Regions from separate parts of the Homo sapiens genome. Here region 2 is linked to region 1. The links come from fine-mapping of genetic effects on gene expression. A gene starts in region 1. The other region holds a variant in brackets. All regions are shown on one strand. Distances are from middle to middle. Region 1 holds the start of SNX5 (sorting nexin 5). Region 2 has its middle 36 kb from the start of SNORD17.

Region 1 (4,389 bases):
CTAGCTAATTCACCAGTGCCAATGGTCTTTGTTTTTGAATGGAATATTAAATTTAAGGAAGCTATTCTCCTCACTTGTCCAAGTTAGTAAATTAGAAGTTGAAGGTTAAAGTGTATTTATCCTCAGATCCTTATGAAGAACCTCTGATTATGTTTACCAAGGTCTAAATATAGGTCATGTGTTCTGGTCTGCTTCAAGGTCTTTAAATTTACGAGTCAGTTTACGCTAATAAGTAGGACAGTGGGTATTTACTGGATTCTAAACAGAATTATCTAGCAAACAACTAGAATTCTGTTACCAGGTGACTTTTTTCAATAATCAAGGAAAACAAGCAATTCTAATATTGTTGGTAGCTTATAAAACAAGTGAATTTTATGTATTATTTAGTCAAATATTTGATCTATTTTAGTTTCATCTGTAAAATGTGGATAACAGTATCTATACTCCACAGGACTACCATGAGGATCAAGTGAGTTAATACACATAAAGTGCTATTTAATGTTAATTACTATCTGAAGGGAGTTCCTTGCTAGTAAGTTAAAAAAACAAAACCAAACCTCATTCTTTTGACACCGTTGCTCTCTATTATAGAAAACATAGCAAACATATAGAATCAGAATTGAGATAATTACTTGAAGTGTATTCTTTAAAGCCATCTTCTCCCAGTTCCAGAATCATCCGCTGTTTCCACCTCTCCAACAAGAAAACCTGTTGTTTTGTCATGGTCTGCTGAAGGACTCGGGTCACACTTGGTATCACATTCCTTTGCAAGGGGATTTTCAAAGGAACTGAAGGATCACTTGCATTTGGTTTATCACTTCTCTCTGGATTGAAGATAGGAAACCAGTTTTGTGGCACTCGTCTGTCCTCACCTTGGTTTGGCAGCTTATGCTTGCTCACGGGTCCACAGAGCAAAGCATCTTCCTCCACCGATCCCGGGGTCTGGGCGACGCCTCTGGATGACAAGACAGACTGAACTAAATTAGAGTATTTTTCTTGGTCCACTTCTTCATATGGGTTCACTTTTTTCTTCCGGCCACATGAGTAAGAGGAAGTAGAGAAAGCCACAAGGGCAGCTGATTCCACAGAAAACTTTGAACTCCTGAGCTGCCTGCAAATGGTCTGAAATAACTTCATCTTCATTCAGATTTGTTTTCACTTTAGTCTATTTGCAACGGTCGAAGGCCTTTATGTTTGTATTCCTATTGGAGAGAAAACAACCATCAAAGCGAAAGCTGCATCAGAATGATATTGCACATCAAAATTGTGAACTTTTTCGACATGTTTGGACAGAGCCCTTTCTTAAGAAAGTCGACAGAGCGAGACCCTGCCTCCAAAAAAAATTTATAAATAAATCAAGACTCAATACCCGAAGGACCGACACATACTAAATGCGAATTAGTAGACAGCTTGAGGCAAGACGTCCCAGTTTCTAATCTGCAGGAATGTGACGCCCAGGAAGGGAGGCGTGTGCGAGACACGGAAAAACACAAAGATGGAGCCCGTCCCATGGCGGCCACACAGTCCTAGGTGACAGACGACGACTAATTCCTAGACACCAGGCTCTCTGCTAAGTATTCTGTGTGGATACTTCTCATTTGGTCCTCACACCCTCTACCGTGGGTCTAGAATGAACCCGTTGCACAGACGTGGAAATCGGGTTGGAGGGTCCCGTCGCTCGCCGGTCAGAGCTGGTGGCGGCGCTGAGGTCCCATTACTGTGACCGCAAAAAGTCGCCTCCCGCTCCGCCGTGGGTGCGGACCCCTGGCGGGGCCAGGACGGCGGTGGCCCCTGTGGCAGGAGTCTGGATTAGAGAAAAGACGACTTAAATAAAAGCCCAGCCTACGGCAAGTGTCGGTACCTTGGAAGCCACCACACTTCGCTTAACTCTCAAGGCGCGAACAACCTCTCGCGACCCGTACTTTCATCCGTCCCGCGCTTTGGTTTCGAATTAGGCACAGCCTAAGGCAAAGCAGGTCCAGAATGCCCCGCGGCGCTCACGCCCCACCCGAGGCTTTCGTCGGCCTCCGCCAACGCGCCACCAGTTAGAGGCAGGGAGTACCTCTCCGAGCGGAAGGGCCGGCGTCTCCGAAGCGCGGGAGCCTCCAAATCGCGCCCTTCTGCTCTCACGAGATCTGGTGACGTCAGCGCTCGCTGCCATCTTGGACTCGGGCTGAGTAATAAATTCCCCCCGCACCGAAACGCGGTCTTTCTCTAGACGCGTCTTGCTGGGAGAGTGTCCGTTGCTTCCCGTCCGTGTCGCGGCCCTGCGGTTGGCGGCCTCCTCGTGGAGCGGAGCAAGGGTAGGCCCCACGTGGCGTCTTTGCCCGGCTCCAAGATGGACGGCAGCGGGGACTGGGAGGCTGCTCTGGGGGAGCACGTGGCGCCCTGCTCGCCTGCTCCCGGGGCAGCTGGGATGGTGGCGGAGTCCGGAGGCCTCCTGCCGCCGTCGGGCAGGGAGGCCGGCGGAGGCGGGGCCGTGGCCGCCCCCGAGAGGCGCCCAGGCGGCGGCGGCGGCGGCCCAGCTTCTTCTTTCCTCGCACAGCCAGGCGGCCCCTGCTCGAGTCCCGCGTCGCCATGGCCGCGGTTCCCGAGTTGCTGCAGCAGCAGGAGGAGGACCGCAGCAAGGTGAGGTCCTCCCAGCCTCAGACTCCTGGGCGGGCGGCCCTGCGAGCTCCGGGGTCGCTGCATTCTTTCCCTTGCGCGTCCATAGGCCGTGGCTGCTCGCCGCCATCCCCAGCGCGGGAAGCACCCGTGAGACCCGGGCGGCCCCTCTCCCTGGTCTTCACTGAAGGCTGCCCCGGGGAATCCCTGTGGATGTCCCGGATTCTATTAGGACAGAACCAGAGACGCGGGACCTTAGCCCCAGCTCAGGCGCCGGTGCCGAGCGGACTTGGAGAGATGATCTCTGGAGACCCCGGAATGTTCTTTTTAAAACTTTCCTCGGCTTCGTGGTGACCAGTAGGTGAACGTGAAATTGACTTAACATGCGACAGACCAGTTTGGTTTGTTGCCCCCAAAATACCCTCCTTCCCCCCACCTTTTACTGAGAAGACTTTTTTGGGGGGGGGGCCCAAACAACTTGGGAAATTGCATCAAGCGTCCGAACATGCTGCTTACAACTTTAGAAACGCAAAATGCGTTGTTGTGGGAGTTGTGTAATTTTTAGTAGGTGCTCAAATACTTGCTGAACTTGGTGTCTATTTTTAAGTCTTGCCCATTGATGTAAACTGTCCCTAGGTCACGTGTATCTTGAGGTCTAAAAGATTATTTATGCAATAAATTGAAATTCCCATAGCCAATTAAAGATTCAGACGAGCCTCCACTCTTTTTCATTGGTTCTTTAAATTTGCCTCGGTAGCTTTGCGATGCATGGTTTGCGAGCAACCTTTCTTGCAGAATCGTCAACGTAAGTTTTTCTGACCGATGAAAAAGAACCTCTAAAAATACAAGGCTCTCTTAAAATGTAATTTGGAGCCGTCTTAACTTACACATTTCTTGAGAAGTTAAAGGCACCTCCATAGAGAAACTTGTTCATCTAGTAAGTAAATACCAGAGTTTCAAAGCGGCTGGATTGTTCCAACAAGGGTATCATTGCATTAATTATTAAAATAGAGCTTTCTATACAGGAGGGTGTTGTTTAGAGTGGTTTTTTTTTTGAAAGTTCTTTATTACTAAAACAAAGTGGAAACTTGAGACCACGATTCTTTGTAAAACATTATAAAGGTACTTTTCTCCATAAAGGGTAGATAATGGATTGGGATTTTGGTAGCATTTTATTTTTTCTTTCTTTCTGGTACATTCTTTTAGCTGTCTTGATTCGGAGTCAGCTAGGTAAAAGGACTCAATTGCTTCACCCCACTCTCTGGTAGTACAGTATATTGCAGCTGGTTTTTAAAATGACTTCCACCACCCTGATCCTCCAGCAAAATTGGAGAATGGTTATGAAGGCCATTTCCTGCCTGTTTTAGAGGCTACAGAAACTGTCCGTATCTGTAGCGAAGAGAGTTACATGACATTGTTTTCCTTTTTACATTACAGGAATAAAGAGACAATAAAAATAAATAATTACCCTGACGCGTGGCTTTATTTTTGTTTTCTGATCTCTGCTGATGCTGATAACCTGCTGTGGTCTGGCCTAGATGGTGTTATGGTTAACTGAAAGGGAGTTTGGGGCAAGTATGAAATAATGGGAAACTAAGTCTTGGGCAACTTTTTGCCATAATACAATTTCGGTAGTCAACTGAAATGTTTTGTGTGTTACCTGAAATGTGTGTTACTTAAATTGTTTAAATGCCCTCCTGATAATTTACTTTGGTTTGGAATTCTCCCTAAGGATGGAGTTAATTAAGACTCACTAAGGTAGGGGGACATACTTGATTCTTCAGG
Region 2 (4,389 bases), 42 kb after region 1:
CACCAGCAACTGATCCCGTGGATAGGCTCCTCATCCTGACAGCCTGAGTCCAAGCCCTCAAGGTGCCGAAGCACCTGCCGAGACGGGGGAAGGACCTCCGTAGAGGCAGCCTCGCCAAGGGCCCCTGGGGAGGGTGGCTCGGGGCTGAGGCTTCCTCGCAGTCATCCCAGGAGACCCTATCTAGGCCATGTTCCTTCTGGGGCCTCGGCCACCTGGCCTTCCTGCCGCTCCGCACCTTTGTCAATATTTATTTCTTCTCTGGACTCGAACAGCCTGGTATTTGTTTAAAGGGCAGGAGCAGACGTGGCTGTTCCTGCCTCCTTGCCTTGCGCCCTGCTTCCTGGCACCTCCCCAGGGTGCCTCTTGCCTGCAGGTGGGCTCACCAGGCAGGCCCACCTCTGTCCCTGGCCCTCCCACTGGGGCCAAAGGCCTCACAAGAGCTTTCTCACTTCACCATTGACTCCAATTTCCCTCGAGACACCTTGACCTGGGCCTCTGGCCCAACGCACATCATATGTGGCCTACAGGCCTAGAACTGAGATGCTCAGAGCATTAGCAATGTTCCGAAAATACTCCTGGCTTCTGATCCAATAGAACAAGCCACAAAGAGGTTGTGGCAAAAGGTCATGTGGTTTGAAACAGATTTGCACATCATTTTCGGAGAAATCAGAGCCTGTCCTGGGCTGAGGCTAGGGCGTGGACCTGGGAGACCTGCACTGGGAATGCGGAGCTGCTAATACTCCTGATAAATGTGTGACTGGCCCTCGGACAGGTCACTGGACATTTTTTCTGCCAAACAGATTCAGATGTGATTTGTCATTTTTGCCTCCTCCCAGCCTCGGGGGCATGCTTCGGACAGAGGAGGCTTCAGCCTTTACCTCCCCACTCCCACATGCCAAAATATTTTGAGATCTGTTGCCTCAGTTTTGAGTACTGCTCACATCAACACAATGTGGGGATTGTTCCTTTTCTAATAAAGATACTGCTGAAAAACTGGACATTTGATGCTTTTTTAAAAAACCTTTATATTTTGACCCACTTTTAGAAAACTAGTAGTAAAAGTAGCAGAAAATTTGCAAGCCTGGTACAGGCAACTTCTCTATGTCCCTCCAGCAGTTGACCCCAATCTTGCAAAACCATAGCACAATTTGCAAAGCCATAGCACAGTAATCAGAACCAGGAAATTAACCTCAGTACAGCAGCCTTAATCAAACCAAAGATCCCGTGTGAACTTCACTGGTTTTCCCATTAACGTCTTTTTCTTGCTCCAGAATCCCATCCAGGATCCCGCATTTGCATATAGTTGTTTTTTTCTCTCTAGTCTTCTAGACTCTATAATAGTTCCTTGGTCATTCCTTGTCTTTCAGGACCTAGATACCCATGAAGAGTATTGATCAGTTACTTTGCAGAAGTCTCTTAGTTCAGGCCTGTCTGAACTTGGGCTCAGGTTGTGCATCCCAGGCAAGGGCGCCAGAGGCCTGGGGCTGCATCCTGCTCACTGCACGTGTCACGGGGGCATGGCGTTGATGGCTTACGTCTGTGATGATGGCCCTGATCACCTGGTCAAGTGGTCTCTGATGGGCTTTTCCTTGGTAATGTTTTTTCTGTCCCCAAACCCCACCCTTGTCAACAAACCTCCTGGAAGAGATACTTAAGGCTTTGCAAACCCCTTTTTTCCTCAAACCTTCCACCTATTCTGTTGTCTATTAGCAGCTCTTGTCTGCAACAATCACCACTGTGGTGTTGACCTAATGCTGATTTCTCCTTTGCTCCTTCCTTC[C/T]GCATGGATTGACTGGATTTTCATTGCAAGGAAGAGCTGTCACTTCCCTATTGACTTATTTAATCAAATACTTATATCAGTGTGGACTTGTGGACATTTATTTAACTCTATGGGTTATTGTCCTAAACTATCATTATTTTTCTTATTGTTTAAATTCTTCCAACCTTGACCATTTGGAGCTCCTTCAGGGCTCCTGTGTTCTTTCAACAAACCACCATCTTCTTCTAGTTCCACACGATGTTCCAGGATTTGCTGCTGGTTTTGCTCAGTTAATTGTTACATATTCTCTTTGGGTTCTGCATAGATTGTGAGCTATGAGAACCACAGATCACATCTTCTGCTTGATATCAACTACGGGCTAGATTATGCTCAAAACTTATTTCTGAGTCGTTGGCAGAGCCAGTTCTTTGGAACTTGGAGATTGGCAGTTGTGATTGTTGTGTTGGGAGCAGTTAAAACCAGGCGGAGCCCAGTAGGCTCCAACTCTGCTGTCTTTTACGGCTTATGTTCATTCTACCTTAAAGTCTCCATGTGACCACCTAGAGTTCAAAAGCCCCAGAATACCCAACTCAGACTAACCTGTGGCTCCCTTTGCCTGGCACACAGAATAGTGCCACGGTTTCATGCTGATAACCTCGACCTTTGTCTGAGAGCTGTACCTGATCTTACCAACAACACTGTGAGAAAGTTGGAAAGTTTCTTAATTTGGGTTCCCCCAGAAGCTGACTCTGTTGCATGGATTCTTGTGCAAGTGTTTTATATGGACAGTGATCTCAAGGGGCTGTAGGGAAGTGAAAGAGGGAGAGGAGGGCGACTGATTTGGGGTGTATTGTCAAGCACCTCATTGCTGTGGGTAGCTGGAGCTCAGTCTCATGGGGGGTCCCTGGGAGACAGTGTAGAACTCATACCTAAGAATGATCCTGCCCCTCAGGAGTTGGGGTGTTAGGCTATTTGGGGGGGTTGCTCCTGGGAGTGTGAATTCTCTAACACTTCTAAGCACACAGGCAAAGTTGTACACAGGGATGATCAGGGTCTGCAGGATACAGGTGCAGCCCCAATGTCACCCACTGCAGGCAGAGCCCATTTTACAGATGAATAAACTGAGGTTCAGGGAAGCTAAGTAATGTCTAGAAATGGTGCAGAGACCTGGTACTTGAACCTATGAATGTGGGTAAGGATTGGGTTAGATGGTTCTAAGTCTCCACCCAACTCTGAGATCTTCTCTCTTTGCACCCACTTCTCATGGCATGTTCCTTCACTGCTACCTGCTTGCCTGCCACGAGGCAGACCGGCCATTACAACCCACCACCCATGGTTTCTGGAAATGGCCTCCCAGACTTGGCAGGGTGAGTATTTGCACAAAGGCACACCTGAGCAAAATGAGTGATGGTTTGGCCTGATGTCTTGGTAGTTGCAAGTTCATTGCTTGAGTCGGACAGGATAAACCCCGTGTTGTTTTAGGAGGTTTGAGTTACATCGACCCCACCGATAAGCAGTGTTAAAAGATTAGGTGAATTGACGGAAGGAACTCCTGGCTTCTTCTTTGCTTAGACTGTTGGGCTGACAGATAATCTACTTATCTCCTCCGACAGCGCCAGAAGATAGACATTCCCAGTGCTGAGATATATGTTGTGCTGCGTCACAGTTTCTCACTGTTTCTCCTTTCCCTCCCTGACCTCCCAGATCTAGTTCTTGGCCCTAATTCTGACTCCCCCCTTCCCCCATCATGTAGCCTCAGCCTGTCCTCTTAGTGAACTTTTGGACCCGGGCCATGGGTGTTAGTCTTTGGACTCTCGTGAATCTTTGGAGGGAATTCTAGGCTAGGAGACCTAGTCTCAGGCCCAGCCCTGCCAATAAATACATATGCATGTGGCCTGGGTGCAGCCTCAGCCTCAATGTCCCACAGGAGGAACTGGAATGTTTAAAGAGGAAATTATCCCTGCCTGGTTCACCTCCTAGGACTTCTGGGAAGTTCAAACCAGATGAGGCTGCAGGAGGATTATCACAACCCAGGACTTGGCTGACTTCCTGGACTTGAGGCTGGCTTCAAAGGACATATATATGGATAATACACATACAAAAAGAAGCTCCGTCTCGTTGGTATTCAGGAACATGTGAGTTACAACAAGATACCAATGGTGGTGGGGATCTAGCCTTTTGAGGGGCAAATTGCCACTCTCGATTACAATAAATGATGTCTAAATCCTGTGCCCCAGAGAGTCATTCTTTAGATTTATGGCAGAGAGATGCTGACATGAGAATGAGAGGGTAGGCATGCATTAAGCTGTCCACAAAAGCAGCTCTTCTCAAAAATCTGGGAATCTGGGGGCAAGGTCTATTGTTTTGTTTTGGTTTGTTATGTTTTTCTTGAGATGGAGTCTTGCTCTGTCACCCAGATTAGAGTGCAGTGGTGCGGCCTCGGCTCACTGCAACCTCTGCCTCCCAGGTTCAGGCAATTCTCGTGCCTCAGCCTCCCAAGTAGCTGGGACTACAGGTGTATGCCACCATGCCTGGCTAATTTTTGTATTTTTTGTAGAGACGGGGTTTCACCATGTTGGCCACGCTGGTCTTGAACTCCTAACCTCAAGTGATCACCCGCCTCGGCCTCC

What was found.
Region 2: its variant is fine-mapped to the expression of SNX5 in whole blood (TOPMed, PIP above 0.99).

What each region holds. Positions count from the first base shown.
Region 1 is chr20:17,966,614-17,971,002 of GRCh38, reverse strand. It overlaps SNX5 (sorting nexin 5), which reads left to right and starts at 2,209. Exons shown (of 13, transcript NM_014426.4): 1 at 2,209-2,628. The coding sequence starts at 2,578. MGME1 (mitochondrial genome maintenance exonuclease 1) reads right to left here and starts at 1,985. Exons shown (of 5, transcript NM_052865.4): 1 at 1,862-1,985; 2 at 633-1,202. The coding sequence starts at 1,143. RefSeq lists enhancers at 991-1,120, 1,141-1,340, 280-1,479, 2,061-2,370, 1,987-2,741 and 3 more and a silencer at 2,371-2,580.
Region 2 is chr20:17,924,617-17,929,005 of GRCh38, reverse strand. No RefSeq gene overlaps it. Among named protein-coding and RNA genes, the nearest start is that of SNORD17, 36 kb to the left of the region's middle. The variant C/T (reference allele first, on the strand shown) is at 1,781.